Linked DNA regions of Homo sapiens. The protein of the gene in region 3 purifies or fractionates together with the protein of the main gene of each other region. This does not show direct contact. Each region holds a gene or a part of one and is shown on either strand. Other genes may lie near its edges.

Region 1 (3,655 bases), on a different chromosome or scaffold from region 3:
CTGTGTCTGCTTTCGGGAACAGCAAACCCGACAGGTAAGAACCAGCCCTCCCCCGTGGAGGCTTCAGGCAAGAGGAAGAGGACAGGGAATGGGCTGATAGTGTGCCCACAGGAGAGGGGATGCCCGGCTGCCCCCACAGCTTGTACACGTAGCTGTACTTGGTCCTGGAAACCCTAGTCATACGGGTCCATGGTCCTTTTCTTACCATGCATTCCTGGGGCCTGAATTGTGTTCACACATGAACATGTGCCACTACTAACTGGACTGTTCCGCTTGCTTCTCCTAAAGTAAACGCAAGGACTCAGAACCCCGCACCAAATGCCTCCTGAACAATGCCGACCTCGCCCCTCACCACCCCAAGGACCCTGTGGAAATGAGACGCATTAACTTCCAGACTCCAGGTATGTACTTATCCCTGGTACCAGGGATGCCACCAACAGGGGAGATAGCTGGGGAGAAGCAGTAGCTGCCACCCTGGGGGCCCCTCATTGGCCCCCTCTGAACTATGCTTGGTGCAGCCACATTCTGGATTCCCAAATACCTCCAACCCTACATGGATCTGGGCTTGGAACTCATAGGTTGGTTCTGCTTACAACCAAGTGAGGCTTTTTTTTTTTTAAAGTTAACATTTAACCAATGGCTGCTGTCCTCTTCAGGAGCCTAAAGACGATGTTTAAAAAATGGAGAAAACACAAATAAACCCCTCATTTCTTTGGGCAGAAAGAGCTATTCTTCTGTTTATGTCTCTGGTTTTAATGTTCCTCGGTGGTGGGAGTTGAGGTTTGCCCTCAGCCATTTTCCACACTCCCTTGGGATATATCCCTAGCAAGGTACAGAAATTATACCTGCCCAATGCCCTGTACCTCTTCCCACCATGGCTGCCAGGGTTCATGCCTCTTTATAGTTCCCTGTAGATTAAAGTCACCTGACAGTCCAGGAGAACTGAATCAAGGCCTTATCCTTGATCATTTTCATGTATGATTCACAAACTCTACCATCTCCTCCCTCTTCATGGGCTCATGCCAGCTGCTTCTAACCAAATAAGGAATTTTTCATTTTACTGATGGCTGCTATTCTCCTTATGGGTTCACAGCCAAGTTACATCTGTCCTTCCAACTGTACCCGGTCTCCACTTCGTATCTCTGAACTGGTTCATATCAACTCTATTTTCCAACCAAATGAAGATTTTAAACATTTGTATTTCACTGATGTCTTTAGTCCTCCTTAAAGCCTCATGCATAGCCTCACATGCCATTCCTGATGTACTTTCTTTTTTTTTGTCTCTGGACTGGCTTGTGTCACTTCTGTTTTCATCCAAATGAGGAGTTTGACCATTAGTATTTAACTGATGGCTGCTGTCCTCATAAAGGGATCATGCAGGGCCTCATGTATCACCCCTCGTGTATTCTCTTCCCTTTCTTTCCTCTGTACTGATTCGTGTTGCTTTGGTTTTTCAGCCAAATGAGAATTTTAAATGTGCATGTAACTGACGGCTGCAGTCTCCTGAAGGGATCATGCAGAGTCTCACAATTCACCGCTAATGTGCTCCCATCTCATTTCTGTCTCTGGACTAGCTGATGTCTGTTGTGTTTCCATCCAAATAAGGATTTTCAACATGTGCATTTAACTGATGGTTGCTGTCCTCCTTGAAGCTCATGGCATGGGCCCATATGTCCTTTCCCTGCTCCCCCAGCTTCTCCTTCACCATCCTGCATCCTCCTTCCTCAGAATGCCCTCTGCTGACCTCAACAGAGGGGACCCAAGGCCAGGCTGGTCTGGGGGAGGGGATCTGTAGACAGAAGAACCTAGCACTTTGGAGTCCTTCCAGAGTGACGGGTCAAGACCAGGATTGACTGGTGTCCAGCCAGAGGGGTACACAGTTAGCAGCTATCGTGAGTCCTCAGGTGGGGGCCCAGGTGGCTGTACATACCCCCCGTTGTCCGCGTTGCTCTGCCCTTTGCATCCGCCAGCCAGTGAGGGGTGGGGGAGGCAGAGGTGGGACCCCCCCCTACCCCCTGCATGTTTTCATTTATTTATTGTTTGCTGTTTGCAGATTCAGGCCTCAGGAGCCCCCTCAGGGAGCCGGGGTTTCACTTTGAAAGTTAGTTCTTGTGTCTGTTTTTGGCTTCCTTTCGCCCCCGCCCCCGTTCATTTCCTCTTTGGTTTCTCCATCGTGTCTCCTGTCTCTGTCCACACGCCCACCCATCACCGGCCTTTGCCCACCTGTCTTGTGCTGGCTCCTGGAAGAGGGCAGGGGGTTGGTCCATTGGGCCCTCAGGTGGCTGTGTGTGACTGCTGTGTGTGTGGTGTGTATGTGTGTGTCAGGGATGTGGGTGAGGCACGTATGTACCCAGGACGTGCCCACAGGACAGGCAGGCCCCTTAGATGTGAGCTCTTGGGGGGCACCCAGGACAGCTAGGGACACATGGAAGTCTCAGAACATTAAATGTTACCAGCTGGTCTGGAAACCACCTGAGAGCTGAACATCCGGTACACAGGTCCCAGGAGAGGTCAGGGTTCTGCAGACCCAGATATCGGGAAGGGAGAACCGAGCCCACACCCAGCACCTTCGGCAGCCATCCTAGGGGGCTTGAAAGGATAAGAGCTCTCAGGCCAGGGCCTTCTTGCACCTGCTCCTGCCCCAAGCAAGCGCAGGGACAGATGGGGACCCCTCACTCCTCTCACGTACACACACACATACTGTTTCCCCTCCCTAGTCTGTCGCCTCTACCTGGAAGCGGATTTCGTGCCTCTGATCCCAGAGGGACAGAAAGGGGTGTCAGTCGCCCACCCAAGGACAGTATTTCCAAAGCACAGCCGGCTGCGTCTGCAATTTAATTTCTGTGCCACACACTTGCTTCTTGGCTCGAGGCACTGGGAGCTTGACATCCTCTGGGGTGACCCTTCTGCCAGCCCCTGCACCCCCAGCTTGGTTGGAAGGAAACAGGATGGGCCAATGCTGTGATCCAGGCCCCTCCAGGGGTGTCAGCCTCTGCACGGAGCAGAGGGCCTCAAACCTGCTGCCTTTAGAGTCCCCTAGGCCTGGGGTCCCAGCCCCTTCATGAGCCACCCTGAGTCTTCCCCTCCTGCCAAGCCCCACCCCGGCCATGCCCTTCTAACCACAGCTCACCCATCGCAGACTCACACGTAGATCACCCCCCTCCCCCGAGTCCCCGGCTGGCCCCCCAAGTGACCAACCCCGGCGGGGTCTGCTCCACCCTGTAGGCATGCTTAGCCACCCGCCAATTCCCATCGCAGACATGGCGGAGCACACGGAGCGGCTCAAGGCCAACGACAGCCTCAAGCTCTCCCAGGAGTATGAGGTGAGCCCACCCCCGCCTCCCACCCTCATCACCTCGGCCTCACAGGCACCTACCCTGACACCCGCGCTCTCCCCTTCCTCTGTAGTCCATCGACCCTGGACAGCAGTTCACATGGGAACATTCCAACCTGGAAGTGAACAAGCCGAAGAACCGCTATGCCAACGTCATCGCCTATGACCACTCCCGTGTCATCCTCCAGCCCATTGAAGGTAGTTCGGAGATCCCGGGTCTTAACCTGCCCTTCCCCACTGCATGGAAAGTGCTAGATCCCATGTCTCCCCTTGGGCCACTGAGGCCTGATTCTGGTCATAGACCTGGTCCAGCTCCAACTG
Region 2 (3,655 bases), on a different chromosome or scaffold from region 3:
TATTTCTTCATTGCTGAATAATATTCCATTATATGAGTATACCCCCAGTTGTTTACCCATTTTATTGTCATCTCAAGTTTTTGCCCATTGCAAATAACATTGCTGTGAGTAGTCTTTTATGTATATCCTAGTACAACTGGCACAAGTTCCTTCAGGTATATGCTGAAGAAGTAGAATTGCTAGATAATAAGGCACGCATACTTTAGGCTTTTGCCAAACCATTTTTCAAAGTGGTTGTACTAACTTATACTCCCACTAGCTAGTAGAAAGTCAACACTGGTTCACATGATTCCCAACATTTGGTATTATCAGCCTTTTACATTTTTGCCAATCTAGTGGCTATATTGTGGCATATATTTGTGGTTTTAATTTGCACTTCCCTGATTACTAGTAAAGTTAAATGCCTTTTTAAATGCTTACTGGCCTTTAGGGTTTCTGCTTTTGGGAAGTGTCTGTTCAAATCTTTGACATATTTTTCCATAGGGGCTATCTGTCATTTTTGTAAGATTTGTAGGAGTTCTTTATATATGCTAGATATGAGTTTATAGGATTACAAAGGAAATCAATTATATTGACATAATAGTTATCAAATATAAAAATGCAAGTATGTGGGCTTATTTATTTATACAATAAATAAGATCTGGTGCAGGTGTAATAACAACTATAATATCAAAGTGATTATAAGCATTGACATTATTTCAAGATATCTGCAACAAAAATATCTGGTTTCCACTTGTGACAACGCCACAGGTACTATTAACATTATGTACTGTGGGCCAGGCGTGGTGGCTCACACCTGTAATCCCAGCACTTTGGGAGGTCAAGGTGGGCAGATCACGAGGTCAGGAAGTCGAGACCATCCTGGCTAACACGGTGAAACCCCATCTCTACTAAAAATACAAAAAATTAGCCGGGCGCGGTGGTGGGCGCCTGTAGTCCCAGCTACTCGGGAGGCTGAGGCAGGAAAATGGTGTGAACCCAGGAGGCGGAGCTTGCAGTGAGCCGAGATCGTGCCACTGCACTCCAGCCTGGGTGACAGAGTGAGACTCCCTCTCAAAAAAAAAAAAAAGAAAAGAAAAAAAAAACAAAAAAAAATTATGTACTGCGATGTGTTGCTTACATTCATAATTGGAGGAAGGGCCAAATTTTAGTTAGGTGTAATTTTTTTCCCATTGAAATTCATGGACCTCTGAATTTTTCCAAGAATCCTTTGTGAACCATAGGGTAAGAATGTTACTTACAGAATATCACTATCTAGTAGAGAGTCTGAGCTATTCTTGATTGTGTGTGTGTGTGTGTGTGTGTGTGTGTTTTAATAGAGACAGGGTTTGACCCTATTGTCCCGGCTGGTCTTGAACTCCTGGGCTCAAGTGATCCTCCTGCCTTGGCCTCCCAAAATGCTCCTTTGTGTTTTAATATAAAAATACTTGGTGATTTTTTATTGGGATTGCATTGACTATATAGATTAACTTGGAAAAAAAAAGAGACATCTTTACAATACTGAGTCTTCCAAACATTGAACATTTATATATTTCTATTTAGATCTTTCATTTTCTCAATATTCTGCACAGATTTAAATACTTATTATTTGTTAGACATTCCTAGGTACTTGATATTTTTGATGCTGTTGTAAATGATGCCTTTAACATTTATTTCACTTTGTTTGTTGCTGACATATAGAAATAAAACTGGCTGGGCACGGTGGCTCACACCTGTAATCCCAGCACTTCGGGAGGCCAAGGCAGGGGGATCACGAGGTCAGGAGATTGAGACCGTCCTGGCTAACATGGTGAAACTCCATCTCTACTAAAAATACAAAAAGTTAGTCGGGCATGGTGGCGGGCGCCTGTAGTCCCAGCTACTCAGGAGGCTGAGGCAGGAGAATGGCGTGAACCTGGGAGGCGGAGCTTGCAATGAGCCCAGATTGTGCCACTGCACTCCAGCCTGGGCAATACAGTGAGACACCGTCTCAAAAAAAAAAAAAAAAAAGAAATAAAATTGATGCCTTTAACATTTATTTCACTTTGTTGCTGATATATAGAAATAAAATTGATTGTGAATTCAGTAAACTTGCTAAATTTATTCTATACACATAGTCATATAATTTGTGAGTAATGAGTTTTGTTTCTTTCTTTCCAAGTCTTATACCTTTTATTTATCCTTATTGCTTTACTGAAGGCTTCCAGTACATTGTTAAATAGACAAAACATCTTAATTCTTGACTTTTCTGGATTCTAAAAAGAAAGCTTTTTCTACCCTTCACCATTAAATTTGATGTTTGGTATAGGTTTTTTATAGTTAATTACATTTTATCAGATTAAGAACGTTGTCTCTTATTTCAAATTTGCCAATTATTCTTTTGATCATAGATGGATGTTGAATTTTATCAACTTTTTTTTTTGGAGACGAAGTGTCACTGTCACCGAGGCTGGAGTGCAGTGATGCGATCTCAGCTCACTGCAACCTCTGCCTCCTGGGTTCAAGCGATTCTCCTGCCTCAGCCTCCCAAGTATCTGGGACTACAGGCGCATGCCACCACGCCCGGCTAATTTTTTGTATTTTTAGTAGAGACGGGGTTTCACCGTGTTAGCCAGGTCAATTTCCTGACCGTGTGATCCGCCCGCCTCAGCCTCCCAAAGTGCTAGGATTACAGGTGTGAGCCACTGCGCCCGGCTGAATTTTATCAACTTTTTTTTGCATCCATTGAGATGATCATATGATTTTTTTCTCCTTTAACCTGTTAATGTAGTAAATTGCATTGATTGAATTTTCTAATATTAAACCAGCCTTAGAACAGTGATACTCAACTTGACTAGTCATCAGAATCACACAAATAAAAAGTCTTTTTAAAAGTCTAGATCAGCCAGGCGCGGTAACACCCGTATTCCTGTTTCTCTTTTTGTTTCATATTTTATTAAAATAAAAGAAGTAAAATAATACTGATAAAGCTGATATCCCCTCTCTTTCTCGTTTCAGTTTCATATCCTTCTTTTCTCTTTGGAAAGCTTCCCCATCCTAGTAATTTGTGTATTTCTTTATTTTGTTTTTAAGCTCAAGTTTTGTTTTTGTTTTTGTTTTTGTTTTTTTGTAGAGATGGGGTTTGGCCATATTGCCCAGGTTGGTCTCGAACTCCTGAACTTAAGTGATCCACCCACCTTGGGCCTCCCAAAATGCTAGGATTATAGGCGTGAGCCACCATGTCCAGCCTTAAGCTTAATTACTTTTAAAAAATAGGTTATACATGTACATGGCACAGAATTCAAAAGGAACAAGTTAAGTCCTACTTCTGCATCTAGCTACCCATTTTTCCTCTGCAGAAGTAACCACCAACACTGGTTTTTGTGTCCTTTTGGAAATATCCAACATCTGTCCAGATGTAGATGTGCTCTCAGTCTCTCCTCTACCGCCCAACCAGTACCATGCTCTATAGACTGCTCTCCACTCAACTGAGTCCATGTAACATGACAACATTGGACATCATTCCATTTCAATGCACATCCTGTCATGCACCCCAGAAGGAGATTTTGGTTAACAATGGACCACATGTGATGGTGTTCCCTTAAGATTATAATACCACATTTTTACTGTAGCCTTTCAATGTTTAGATATGTTTAGATACACTGATACTCACCGTTGTGTTACAGTTGCCTGCAGT
Region 3 (2,563 bases):
CTCCCTCAGGTGCTGGTCCTGGCGATGATGACAGTGGAACTCTTTGGTATCATGGGTTTCCTGGGCATCAAGCTGAGTGCCATCCCCGTGGTGATCCTTGTGGCCTCTGTAGGCATTGGCGTTGAGTTCACAGTCCACGTGGCTCTGGTGAGCACGGGCACCCCGGGGAGGGACCAATCAGCTGATTCAGTATTCAACACATATTGTTCAAGCCCCTACTATGTGCTAGGTACTATTTAAGAATTTGGGCTGGGTGGACGTGGTAGCTCATTCCTGTAATCCCAGCACTTTGGGAGGCCGAGGCAGGTGGATCACCTGAGGTCAGGAGTTCGAAACCAGCCTGGCCAACATGGTGAAACCCTGTCTTTACTAAAAATACAAAAAATTAGCCAGGCGTGGTGGCACATGCCAGTAATCCCAGCTACTTTGGAGGCTGAGGCAGAATTGCTTGAACCTGGGAGGCGAAGGTTGCAGTGAGCTGAGATCGTGCCATTGCACTCCAGCCTGGGCAACAAGAGTGAAACTCTCCGTCTCAAAAAAAAAAAAAAAAAAGAATTTGGGCTGGGCACAGTGGCTCATGCCTGTAATTGGGATGATGCTGGGGCATTTTGGGAGGCCAAGGCAGGCGGATCCCCTGAAGTCAGGAGTTCAAGACCAGCCTGGCCAACATTGCAAAACCCCGTCTCTACTGAAAATACAAAAATTAGCTGGGCGTGGTGGCTCATGCCTGTAATCCCAGCTACTCAGGAGGCTGAGGCAGGAGAATTACTTGAACCCAGGAGGCGGAGGTTACAGTGAGCTGAGATCACATCACTGTACTCCAGCCTGGGCAAAAGAGCAAGATTCAATCTCAAAAAAGAATTTGGAAAATAAAAATAAAAAAGAATACGGGATATAATAGCAATACAGTTTTTTACCTCCAAGGAACTTATATTCTAGGGATAGAGATAGACAATAAGGGCTGGGTGAGGTGGCTTACGCCTGTAATCCCAGCACTTTGGGAAGCCGAGGTGGGCACATCACTTGAGGTCAGGAGTTCAAGACCAGCCTGGCCGACATGGTGAAACCCCATCTCTACTAAAAATATGAAAATTAGCTGGGTGTGGGGGTGCATGCCTGTAATCCCAGCTACTTGGAAGGCTGAGGCAGGAGAATCACTTGAACCCGGGAGGGTGGAGGTTGCCATGAGCCGAGACCATGCCACTGCACTCCAGCCTGGGAGACCGAGCAAAACTCCATCTCAAAAAAAGAAAAAAAAGAAGAGAGAGATAGACAGTAAATAAGTAGACAAATAAATAAGCAGCCATTTCAGTAGAGAGGAGTAGACAAGATCCTGTCTGGAATGTGTTAAAGACAGAATGGAAGATGAGAAAATGGGAATCAATGATTCTTTTGAATGGTTTTACTGTGAACCATTGTGGGATGGGCCAGGCATGGTGACTCACACCTGTAATCCCAGCACTTTGGGAGGCTAAAGCTGGTGGATTGCTTGAGCCAGGAGTTCAAGACCAGCCTGGGCAACATGGTGAAACCCCGTCTCTAATAAAAATACAAAAATTAGCCAGGCGTAGTGGCAGGTGCCTGTAATCCCAGCTACTCAGGATGCTGAGGCAGGAGAATTGCTTGAACCTGGGAGGCAGAGGCTGCAGTAAGCCAAGATTGCGCCACTGCACTCCAACCTGGGCAACAGAGCAAGACTCCGTCTCAAAGAAAAAAAATTTTTTTTAAATAATTAGCTGGGCATGGTGGTGCGTGCCTGTAGTCTCAGCCACTCAGGAGGTTGAGGCGGGAGGATCACTTGAACCTCAGAGTTTGAGGCTGCAGTGAGCCATGATTACACCACTGCACTGCAGCCTGGGCAACACAGTAAGATCCTGTCTCAAAAAAAAAAAAAAATGGGATGGTAGCGGGATGGCAATGTGGGCTTAATGGAGGGGTTCTACAAAGATACCAGAGATACAGAGATGCCAGAACCAAGGAGGGCCTCGCCCAGGGCTGCATATTCTCTGGCAGAGGAAAGGGGGGACCCACAGACCAGCCAGACTCCACAAACAGCTCCCTTCCTTTCCCCCCACCAAATATCTCTATTATTATTCTGATTATAAAAACAATATATGATCCTTGAAAACAAACAAAGCCAGCATGCAGAAAGGTACAAAAGAAGAATTAGAAATCCTCTGAAACGCTACTCTGAGAAGTAACTGTTATCACTTTGATGTCCCTCTTCTAGATGGACTAGTGGTTGGCCAACTTCTTCTATTTATAGGACCAAATAATAACTATTTCAGGCTTGGTAGGCCATAGAGTCTCTGCTGCAACTCTGCCATCAAAGCACAAAATTGTCTAGACAATACATTAACCAATGGGTATGGCTGTTTCAACAAAATTTCATTTACAAAACAAGTGACAGGCTGTAGTTTGCCCAACCTATGTTTGTTTGTTTGTTTGTTTGTTTGTTTGAAACAGGGTCTCACTCTGTCGCCCAGGCTGGAGTGTAGCAGTGCAATCTCGGTTCACTGCAACCTCCACCTCCTGGGCCAAGCGATCCTCCCACCTCAGCCTC
Region 4 (3,655 bases), on a different chromosome or scaffold from region 3:
CCAAAAAGAAATAAAAATAAAATAAAACCAGTATGGAAACTCAAAAAAAAACCCCAATTTATATATAATGACTGAATATATGAAAAAGTAGATTTTCCAAACCAAATGGAAAGGGTAGAGTTATCCCCCAACTGTTGATGATTACATACTATCCATTAAAAGTGACTCAGGACAAACTGCAAAGAACTTTTTAGTACATCAAATAATTTAAATGGCAGCAAACAAAACACTGAATTCATCAGAATCATGTAAAAACTTCTTTCTTAAATCTAAAGCAGCAAAAGCAGTTGAAAAATAAAAAACTTTCAATAGAAAATATCACATTTTTAAAGTGCCAACCGAAAATTAGAAAGTTAAAAAATTAATTTTAAAAATAAAAACTAAAACAATACTTTGGGAAAGACATATGAAATAGAACAAAAGATTAATACATGTATATATAATAAAATTTACTCATTAAAAACCACTGGAAAAATATTAAGACGCCAATAGTAATGGACAAAAACATGTATGGATGATTCATATAAAGCAATATAGAAACAGTGAACAAATCAGAAAAAATGTTCAAACGATAAAAAAAATTAAGTAAAAATTGAAACAACAGGACACCATCAAAATCACTGATGAGATTATGATAAAACTGATAAATTCATATACTACTGGTGATACTATGAACTAATATTATATTTTAGAAAATATAACAATAATTATCAAGAACCATGAAGAAATTAGCATCCTTCGATGTAATAATCTTACTCTTGGAAATCCATGTAAGAAATTCATCCTAAAGACATAATATTTAATAATCTTTAAAGTTACATGCAAGAATAGGTTCACTATAGTGTTACCTAAAAAAGGATAACTGAAAATAACCTAAACATTCATCTAAGTTTGAAAAGTGAAGTACATTATGAAGTCAACTGAAAAACAACTATGCTTGGGCTTAAAAAGATACTGATAAAGAATGGTTAACAGTATTGGAAATATGTTTCTGTCAAGTGAAAAAGTGGACTCTAGTATATATATTAGTGACATAAAATGTTCAAATATGGTATTGACTGGATGTCTGTGTCCTCCCAAAATTCCTAAGCTAAAACTCTAATCCCCAATGTGATGATATTTGGAGATGGAGCCTTTAGAAGGTGATTAGGTCATGAGGGTAGACTCTCACGATAGGATTAGTGCCCTTGGAAAAAAAGACAGGGGAGGGCTTGCTTCTTTGTGTCTCTCCCACCTTCCCCACCCCACCCCACCCCACCACCCCATCCCCACACAAAGTAGACAGTGCATAAATATTTCCTAAATGAATAGCCAGTGCTTAAAAAGCACTGGTTGAATGGATGAATGGTGCTTAAATAAAAGATTCTAAGTAATAACACTGTAACAAGTATACAACATACCCTCTACAAATGACAGTTCCCTTCGCCTTTCACAAAATTTAATGCCCTCATTCTAGGATTTTCCAGTCCTTAATTTTGACCATTACAATCTTTTGGCCATTTTATTATATCTCATTAAGTCTAATTCACATCTAATCATACTATTAAATGCTTATTTTATCCTTTGCTCTCACTTTCATGCAAATTTGTTGGTAAATGAGTATAGAAAATTTTATAAATGAAAATAAAATGGAATACCTTCTTACTGGTCATAGGATGGTCTAAGTGAAGAGTGCTTGTTCATACCACGTAACTCTCCTGAAAATCAATATGAACCTACCTCCAAGACCAAGGTCTTTGAGAACATGATAACCACCCGGCTGCAGGAATTCTCCAACTATTCTGTCAGGCTCTTTTAAGTCTCTCTCAATGACTGTCACCTTTCTTCCATCTCTGGAAAGCACAGCTGCCAAAGCAGAGCCAAGCACGCCAGCTCCCACGATGATAACTTCTGGGTCATTCTGAGAAGATGTTGATGTACAGGCAGCTGTTCCTATTAAGCTTGTTTCTGAAATATTGGTTCCTTTTCTGCGCTGTTTAAAAAAAAAAAGGTAAACTAGGTATCCAAATTTGTTAGATTCAAATCATGCTACCGCTATGTGGACACACTGGACTTTTGCATCCTAGGCTAAAGCTAGATACTAAATATTATCAAACCAAACAAATTGTTACATTTTAAAATCTAGATAATATATAAAAATCAATGATATCAAAATATTCGTTAAATAAAAGTGTGTCATATTATCCCAATAAAATTAAATATTTATTGTTTTCTAAACATGATATTTGGAAAATGTTATACAGACATATTTAGAAATCCACACTGGGCCGAATATAATAAATGTTTATAAGGGGCTTCAAAGACTTATTATAGGGCAAACTGTATCATTAATAACTAAATTCTTCAAATATATCCTGGGAATCGACAAGATGCAAATCACTTACAACTTCTGATTTGAGTTCATGTTACAAACTATTCGGCACCTTTTAGACATTTTCTTTTTTTTGTTTGTTTTTTTGTTTGTTTGTTTGAGACTGAGTTTCACTCTTGTTGCCCAGGCTGGAGTGCAATGGCGCAATCTCGGATCACTGCAACGTCCGCCTCCTGGATTCAAGCAATTCTCTGGCCTCAGCCTCCCGAGTGGCTGGGATTATAGGCATGTGCAACCATGCCCGGCTAATTTTGTATTTTTAGTAGAGACTGGGCTTCTCCATGTTGGTCAGGCTGGTCTTGAACTCCCGACCTCAGGTGATCCTCCTGCCTCAGCCTCCCAAAGTGCTGGGATTACAGGCGTGAGCCACTGCGTGCGGCCTTAGATATTTTCATTATTCATCTTTATTTTCTCTTTCTGGATTTTCATTTGAAAAATCTATGTTAATTTAATATCACTTTTATATGACAAAAGGATTGTCAAATCCTGCCTACCAATCTATTAATTGAAGATTATCTAAATAAACAAAATTACAAGAGAAGAAATAACTCATACCGACTCTTAGATTTGACTTGTTTACAATTTTGGTCCTTAACATATAAGCACATATTTAATTTATCCCTCCTTTTTCCCCATCCTGATACTCTAAGAGATCCTAGTCAAAGAGGTGGTCCCCAAAAAAGGAACAAGGAAAAACATTAAACCTGTCACTGGCTGAACTGACAGCAAAACTTTAACTTTGATCATAAAAAGATGCAAAGTCTTGTTTTGAGAGATTTATGACCACTAAGAACAACAGTGCACAGTGGCTTTTTAAAATGAACAATTCAATTTTGTAGTATTTCTTCTTGGTAGATGGATTCACACATTTGAATACATTTCAGATACAGAATTGCAAGGAACCACCTTCCTTGAGTTCTTTGACCTTAATGATTAAGATAAGACTAAATGCCATTTGAAGGGGTTTTTAAAAAATAATCAAGCAAAAAGGAAGACGAAGCCTAAAATCCTTTAGAACTTTACTCTGTGATTCTAATATCCACCCAGCATTCTTTTACCTCTATAGTGGACTGGGAATTTGTCTATTCTTTTTTTTTTTTTAATTTCTCTCAGAAAAATACTTTTCTGTCCTTTTACTATGGGAAGATCTCAATATTCTACTCTTCCCATTAGTATGTCTTAATGGCCAGAACTGACTATATTTAAATTACTGTAGGGGGCAAGACAAGCCCCTTTTGTCATCTTAACCAAAAATGTGCTTCTTCATAAGTTTTTCCTGTTTTA
Region 5 (3,655 bases), on a different chromosome or scaffold from region 3:
ATATTATAAAGTCATATTGTCACCAGTAGAGGATTGTGACTGCAAGTTGTCCATGTTCTTAGCATTTTGAACAAAGAATTGGACAAAATGCCCAGCAAAGCAAAGAAAGATGGAAGCAACAAAAGAACAAAAGCAGGGTTTTATTGAAAATGAAAGTACACCCCACAGTGTGGGAGTGGGCCTGAGCAGCAGCTCAAGGGCCAGGATACAGAATCTTCTTGGGTCCAAGTACCCCCTAGAAGTTTCCCATTGGCCTTTTCGTGCTCACCTCATGTAAATGAAGTGGAAGCTCACAATCAGTCTGATTGGTTGCAGAAAGCAGCCAACCAGAGGCTGAAATGAAGTTACAAAGGTAACACTGCTGTGCAAACATCTGATTGGTTGCAAAAAGCAACCAATCAGAGGCTAGGGTGAAGTTACAAAGTTATATTTCTTTGCAAATGAAGACTCCGCCCACAGTCAGTCTGATTGGTTGTGGACAGCAACCATTCAGAGGCTGAAGTTACAAAGTTGCAAATGGAGACTGGACCTGTAATCAGTCTGATTTTTTTCGGACACCCAATTTCCCATCTGCTGCACAGAAAACGTGGGGGGTTTGCAAAGGAAGTAGCCTCTGGTCCTTTTGTTACTTAGGTGTGGAAAGTTAGGGTTGGTTTTCCTTTCAATTTAGTTATAAGAAGTCAGCTTGAAAATCAGCCTTAGATTCCCTGCCTCCAGACCCTATTCTCCTGCCTCAATATCAGCCTAGCTATTACAAGGATTAAGCAGTTCTTCCTCTTAGTTTCCCTTTGTGAATATTCTTTCATTAAATATAAAAAAGCCTTTTAATATATTAATAGAAATTGTGCTAAATTAAAAAAATAATTTATATTACTAAATACATGCTAAAAACTAGAAGAGTATTATAATACTTTTCTTCTACATCAGGAAGCATTCAGAATTGTCTGAATTGAATGTTAAAGTCCTGGAAGCTCTGGAACTATATAACAAATTGGTGAATGAAGCACCAGTGTACTCAGTCTATTCAAAGCTCCACCCTCCAGCACATTACCCACCTGCATCATCTGGGGTTCCAATGCAGGTGAGCATGTTTTTTGAGAACATTTTCTAAATTATAAACAACTTTTAAAAGTAAAAGAAAATGTTTTATAGCATAGTATTAAGATTTCTTTTGTCTGTGAATAAAATTATAAAATTTATCTTTGATTGTTTCAGTAAATATTGGCTAAACAATTAACATTCACCAGAGCAAATTAGACAGATACTGATATTTCACAAATACATTTTAGTTCAGTTTTAACATGGATGAAAAGACCATTAAATATGTGAGGGTAGTTCTGGTTCTTCATATGCTTTTGTAAGTATAAAGCATAAATCTTTTATGTAAACATAAATCCTTTTTGTAAATATGGAGTATAAATCTTTTGATTTAGGACAATACCTGACATATCAGAAGTTCCCCAGGTGAGGTACTAACGCTTTCCTGCTGCTCAACAAGATTTAACATTTCTTTACAAATTTCCATAAAGATTTATTTGACTTACATGATTATTAACAGGCACAATGAACTTCTAGAGTATGCTTTATACTTCCTTTACTTAGCTGCATGACTTACATTGTTAAAAATCTGTGCATAGCAAAGATATGATACATGTCTAGGAGGTACAGACTCCGTAAGCCATCCATGAACATCCATAAGCCATCTTTTTCCAGTACTTTTCACCTTTTTTGTGTGCTTGCCATGTGAAGCGAATACTTACATTTGTCAGTATCCCCATTCGGAAGCGTTTTTTGAAATTTCAGCCAATTAGCCAATTGAATTCAGAATGAGCTTGGATGAGCAAAATTCATGTTAATTTATGAAAACTGGTATGTAAAGGTGCATGTGAAGGAGACACCAAGGAGAAAGGGTAGAATGTGGGTGCATAATTTAGATGACTTGACACAACATAATTGTTAAGTAAAAAAAGAATAGTCACTATGGTAACTGTCACGTCAGACAAGATACATTTATCAAATATGCCATGCCTTGATCTTTTTGAAAATTAGGAGGGTAGGAAAGATTTTTCTGGCTGCAAAAGACCTTTGGGATTTATTCAGTTTGCTTCTGTTTTCAGAGTTGTTCGCTGCTGCTGTGAAAGTGGAACAAAACAGCAGTGTCTGCATCATTGTATGATAAAACTTTATGTTTGCTTTTTTGTGTGTCTGTAAAGGGTTATTTGCCATTCTGTGTCAGGTTTTGGTGTTTAGTTGCATTCTACTTACTGCGTTTTGCCAAGCACAACTCATGTCTCTAAAAAGTTAACTTTCTGTTTGATTCCTCACGTAATCTGTACCTACACTGTTCACTCAAGAGCATTTGAAATATTCAAAAGTTTCTATTCTAATTTGACAAAAATATATCTCTACTAGAAGCAGTTGGGGTAACACATTAGTTATATTGTGTAGGCTACTCAGGAACCCTAAACTGCAGAAGACGCTGATTCTCACAGTCTCAGCCTATTGTCAGTAGATTGTTACATGTCTACTAAGGAGGTAATGTGATTGTACTTAATATAGCTTATTTGGCATTTCTAGCATTCTAAATTTTCAGATGAATGGTATTTACTTTAAAAATAGCTTAATTTAAAACTGGATTGATGATCATTATGGTATGATATGATATTAAATGTATGCATTGTTTTGATGCTATATTTAGTAGACAGGTGGTAGACCCTGTCCTTAAGGAGCTGTTGTCCTGAAAATAAGTAGGGCACATATAAATGTCCAAAGAGACCTAAACCATTTTTGCTGTTTCCTGAGGATACATGTCTTTTGCCCATAACTCTTCTTTACTTTTGTCCTGTTTGTCTTAAAGGTAGAGAATAAGGTAGACATTGCCAGGGAAGCCCTGGCACCCTTATACCATTTCTTTTTCAGCTTTTTCTCTCAAGTTTCTTTCTTAGGAAGGAGTTGGATGAGTCATCCAGGGATGAGGGTAAAGAAGGTTATCATTCTTATAGTGACTTTAAGTGATGGTGGGCTTCCCTTCAAGGGAGTGTATAGTTTTCTGTGGCTCTACAGCAAGACATCTTTACTGAGTAATAGGCAACCTGGATAGATTGCAATCCACTACTTAAAAGTACACCACCTGTCTTTCTCCCAGCTCTCTGTAAAAATAAAAGAACAGCCAAACAAATCAAATTTCCATAGATTTGGCACTGTGATTTGACAGCTCTCCACTTTTAGTTCTAAGATGGATAGATTGGTAGAATCAGATTGCTTCCCAAAGAAGTATAGTTTCTTTCCTTTAAGTCTTTTAACATTTTAAATATATTATTAGGCACATGTTTGGGAGATGAGTGAATCAACTTTTTCTTTCTGATTAATAGACATATCCAGTTCAATCACATGGTGGAAACTATATGGGTCAGAGCATTCACCAAGTAACTGTTGCCCAAAGCTATAGCCTAGGACCCGATCAAATTGGTCCACTGAGATCTCTGCCTCCAAATGTGAATTCCTCAGTGACAGCACAGCCTGCTCAAACTTCATATTTAAGGTAAGTTTTGGGAGCTGTGTTAATTTTATATGTGTTAATTTTCCTAGATTTTCAGAATGAGAATATATAGACCCTTATTAAGATGAAGTTACAGAACTGTTTATTCATAATCCT
Region 6 (3,655 bases), about 110 Mb from region 3:
GCTAATTTTGTGTTTTTACTAGAGACGGGGTTTCTCCATGTTGGTCAGGCTGGTCTCAAACTCCTGACCTCAGGTGATCCACCCACCTCAGCCTCCCAAAGTGTTGGGATTACAGGCATGAGCCACCACGCCCAGCCTGGGGAATATTTTTAGGGTTATGCCTAACACCAGTCTTTTCCTCAACAGGTTGCTACAACTATCTGTATAGGATGAAAGCTCTGGATGCCATTCGTACCTCTGGTAAGGGCTACCTGACAGGGTCCATTCTAGGATCCTGAAAGCCCACCTAGGGAACAGAGTAATGAACCCACTTTGTATGTTAGGATTTGTCCTTTCTGCACATCCCTGGCTAGTAGGAAATTCTAGAGTTTTGAAAGTACTAGATTAGAGATTTTGCTGAAGGAAATGATATAAGCAGGTTATTCTCCAAAGAGTCTGGGTGTTTTGTTTTTTAAAGTTCTTCTCTTGAGACCTTTAGTTTCATGAAGTAGATGATAGTAATTTGCTTGTTTTTCCACAAAGGACAGGTGGCACCTGCTTTTTCACTAAGCCCAAGATAGATTGTTCTTGAATTTTTTCCATTCTGTCAACACTTGTCATATATGCTTTATCTCTATGAAAACAGTTTATATCTTAAACCTAGGATGGATGAGTAAGCAGGATGGTAAAATGTGTGATGACACTATCATGTGTCATAGATGTAGCTTACAACTGTGGTGTTACCACCAAATGACCACTCAGGCACAGCTTTATACCTTTGGTCTCAATCAGAATCTCCCTCTAACTCAACTTGCTCATTTCATTAGACCTATTTCTTTTTATTTTTGAGACGGAGTCTTGCTCTGTTGCCCAGGCTGGAGTGCAGTAGCACGATCTTGGCTCACCACAACCTCCACCTCCTGGGTTCAAGCGGTTCTCCTGCCTCAGCCTCCCGAGTAGCTGGGATTACAGGTACCTACCACCATGCCTGGTTAATTTTTGTATTTTTAGTAGGGACAGGTTTTCACCATGTTGGCCAGGCTGGTCTCAAACTCCTGACCTCAGGTGATCTGCCTGCCCCGGCCTCCCAAATTGCTGTAATTACAGGCGTGAGCCACTGCGCCCAGCTTCATTAGACCTACTTCTAAGTTTGGGGAATTAACTAGAAAGACTAAAGAATGGGGCAGGCGCAGTGGCTCATGCCTGTAATCCCAACGCTTTGGGAGGGCGAGGCAGACAGATCACAGGAGGCCAGGAGTTCAAGACCAACCTAGCCAACAAGGTGAAACCCTTTTGTATTTTTGTCTCTACTAAAAATACAAAAATAAGCCTGGCATGGTGGTGCACATCTGTAATCCCAGCTAATCAGGAGGCTGAGACTAGAGAATTGCTCAAACCTAGGAGGTGGAGGTTGCAGTGAGCCAAGATCACTGCCACTGCACTCCAGCCCGGGTGACAGAGCGAGACTCCATCTCAAAAAAAAAGACTAAAGAATGAGAAGAGATATCATTGTGCTGTTTTCTCCACAGAGATCCCATTTCATTCTGAAGGCCGGCATCCCCGTTCCTTAATGGGCAAGAATTTCCGCTCCTACCTGCTGGATCTGCGAAACACTAGTACGCCTTTCAAGGGTGTACGCAAAGCACTCATTGATACCCTTTTGGATGGCTATGAAACAGCCCGCTATGGGACAGGGGTAAGCCAGTTTTTTCTTCGGGGCACTAAAGAGATCCCTCAGACTGAGAGATCCTCACTCTTCCTTTCTCTTTCCTAAGGTCTTTGGCCAGAATGAGTACCTACGCTATCAGGAGGCCCTGAGTGAGCTGGCCACTGCGTGAGTTTGGAGGGGAACGTGTCAGAGGGAGCTGGTACAGTAGTGTTGGACTGTTGCCACAGTGCAGTGACCTTCATAAAGCATATAAACAAAATCCATGATACCATAAGAGTTGTCAGGTTCTAGACTATTAGATCAGTCTCTTACATTAGAAAGCAGATGCGGCCGGGCACAGTGGTTCACGCCTATAATCCCAGCACTTTGGGAGGCCGAGGCGGGAGGATCATCTGAGGTTGGGAATCCGAGACCAGCCTGACCAACATGGAGAAACCCCGTTCTCTACTAAAAATACAAAATTAGCCGGGCGTGGTGGCGCATGCCTGTAATCCTAGCTTCTGGGGAGGCTGAGGCAGGAGAATCTCTTGAACCCGGGAGGCGGAGGTTGCGGTGAGCCAAGATCGTGCCATTATACTCCAGCCTGGGCAACAAAAGTGAAACTCTGTCTCAAAAAAAAAAAAGAAGAAAAGAAAGCAGATGCAACTATACAAGCTAGTAAAAGAAGTTTTTACTAGCATTTTTCTTGTGTGCATTTTTCTTGTCTTTTGTTTAGCCCAATAAAATGTCAAAATTGGTGTAGCCTAGCAAAGGGAATAGTTTTTCAGCACACACAGGGATTCCTTCTCTTCAGAGTCTCAGCGTCCCTTTTGTGTCTTGGCCCAATAAAAGTAAGAATTAAATAACATTGGGCCGGGCGCGGTGGCTCACGCCTGTAATCCCAGCACTTTGGGAGGCCGAGGCAGGCGAATCATGAGGTCAAGAGATCAAGACCATCCTAGCCAACAAGGTGAAACCCTGTCTCTACTAAAAATACAAAAATTAGCTGGGCATGGTGGTGCGTGCCTGTAATCTCAGCTACTCGGGTGGCTGAGGCAGGAGAATCGCTTGACCCCAGGAGGCAGAGGTTGCAGTGAGCTGAGATCACGCCACTGCACTCCAGCCTGGTGACAGAGCAAGACTCCATCTCAAAAAAAAAAAAAAAAAAAAAAAAAAAAAAAGAATTAAATAACATCTATTTTTGGCCGGGCGCGGTGGCTCACGCCTATAATCCCAGCACTTTGGGAGGCCGAGGAGGGTGGATCACAAGGTCAGGAGTTCAAGACCAGCCTGGCCAACATGGTGAAACCTCGTCTTTACTGAAAATACAAAAATTAGCTGGGCATGCTGGCGGGCTCCTGTAATACCAGCTACTCGGGAGGCTGAGGCAGAAATCACTTGAACCCGGGAGGTGGAGGTTGCAATGAGCCGATATCATGCCATTGCACTTCAGCTGGGGTGACAAGAGCATGACTGTCTCAAAAAAAAAATAAAAATTAAAAATTAAAAAAATCTATTTTTACTACCACTTAAAGTATTAGTAACCATGTCTGAAACAAAGGCCATCGCTATAGAGTCAGCTGTTGAGCATTTGTGTCACAGGAGAGGATTCATGGCTTTTGTTTGGGAATGTTTTTAATACACACTAAACATAGTCTCGTATTTTCATGCAAATGTTAAAATCAAAGTTCTTGGCGAGAAAGGAAAGCCAATCTAGAGTAAAAACTTAGGCCGGGCGCAGTGGCTCACACCTGTAATCCCAACACTGGGAGGCCGAGGCAGGTGGATCATCTAAGGTCAGGAGTTCAAGACCAGCTTAACCAACATGGTGAAACCCCATCTCTACAAAAATACAAAAATTAGCCGGGCATGATGATGTGCGCACCTGTAATGCCAGCCACTCAGGAAGGTGAGGCAGGAGAATCGCTTGAACCTGGGAGGTGGAGGTTGCAGTGAGCCAAGATCGTGCCATTCCACTCCAGCCTAGGCGACAGAGCGAGACTCCATCTCAAAATAATAATAAACAGT

Evidence for each region.
Region 1: the proteins of PTCH2 (region 3) and PTPRS purify together in Homo sapiens (affinity purification with mass spectrometry; one large-scale study listed by BioGRID and IntAct). This does not show direct contact.
Region 2: the proteins of PTCH2 (region 3) and SMO purify together in Homo sapiens (affinity purification with western blotting, with the first as the bait; one study listed by BioGRID). This does not show direct contact.
Region 4: the proteins of PTCH2 (region 3) and SQLE purify together in Homo sapiens (affinity purification with mass spectrometry; one large-scale study listed by BioGRID and IntAct). This does not show direct contact.
Region 5: the proteins of PTCH2 (region 3) and STAM2 purify together in Homo sapiens (affinity purification with mass spectrometry; one large-scale study listed by BioGRID and IntAct). This does not show direct contact.
Region 6: the proteins of PTCH2 (region 3) and LTAP1 purify together in Homo sapiens (affinity purification with mass spectrometry; one large-scale study listed by BioGRID and IntAct). This does not show direct contact.

The regions. Positions count from the first base shown.
Region 1 is NC_000019.10:5,215,166-5,218,820, reverse strand, and holds part of PTPRS (receptor-type tyrosine-protein phosphatase S isoform 1 precursor), read left to right. Parts: intron 1-22; coding exon 23-34; intron 35-288; coding exon 289-401; intron 402-2,053; coding exon 2,054-2,101; intron 2,102-3,225; coding exon 3,226-3,323; intron 3,324-3,408; coding exon 3,409-3,532; intron 3,533-3,655. UniProt on the Homo sapiens protein: Cell surface receptor that binds to glycosaminoglycans, including chondroitin sulfate proteoglycans and heparan sulfate proteoglycan.
Region 2 is NC_000007.14:129,195,046-129,198,700, forward strand, and holds part of SMO (protein smoothened precursor), read left to right. Parts: intron 1-3,655. UniProt on the Homo sapiens protein: G protein-coupled receptor which associates with the patched protein (PTCH) to transduce hedgehog protein signaling. Binding of sonic hedgehog (SHH) to its receptor patched prevents inhibition of smoothened (SMO) by patched.
Region 3 is NC_000001.11:44,823,834-44,826,396, reverse strand, and holds part of PTCH2 (protein patched homolog 2), read left to right. Parts: intron 1-9; coding exon 10-147; intron 148-2,563. UniProt on the Homo sapiens protein: Plays a role in the control of cellular growth. May have a role in epidermal development. May act as a receptor for Sonic hedgehog (SHH).
Region 4 is NC_000008.11:125,001,493-125,005,147, reverse strand, and holds part of SQLE (squalene monooxygenase), read right to left. Parts: intron 1,973-3,655; coding exon 1,720-1,972; intron 1-1,719. UniProt on the Homo sapiens protein: Catalyzes the stereospecific oxidation of squalene to (S)-2,3-epoxysqualene, and is considered to be a rate-limiting enzyme in steroid biosynthesis.
Region 5 is NC_000002.12:152,123,652-152,127,306, reverse strand, and holds part of STAM2 (signal transducing adapter molecule 2), read left to right. Parts: intron 1-927; coding exon 928-1,081; intron 1,082-3,371; coding exon 3,372-3,541; intron 3,542-3,655.
Region 6 is NC_000001.11:154,210,478-154,214,132, reverse strand, and holds part of LTAP1 (protein C1orf43), read left to right. Parts: intron 1-186; coding exon 187-240; intron 241-1,508; coding exon 1,509-1,675; intron 1,676-1,754; coding exon 1,755-1,813; coding exon of another isoform or gene 1,814-1,817; exon of another isoform or gene 1,818-2,672; intron 2,673-3,655. UniProt on the Homo sapiens protein: General regulator of phagocytosis. Required to uptake Gram negative bacterium by macrophages.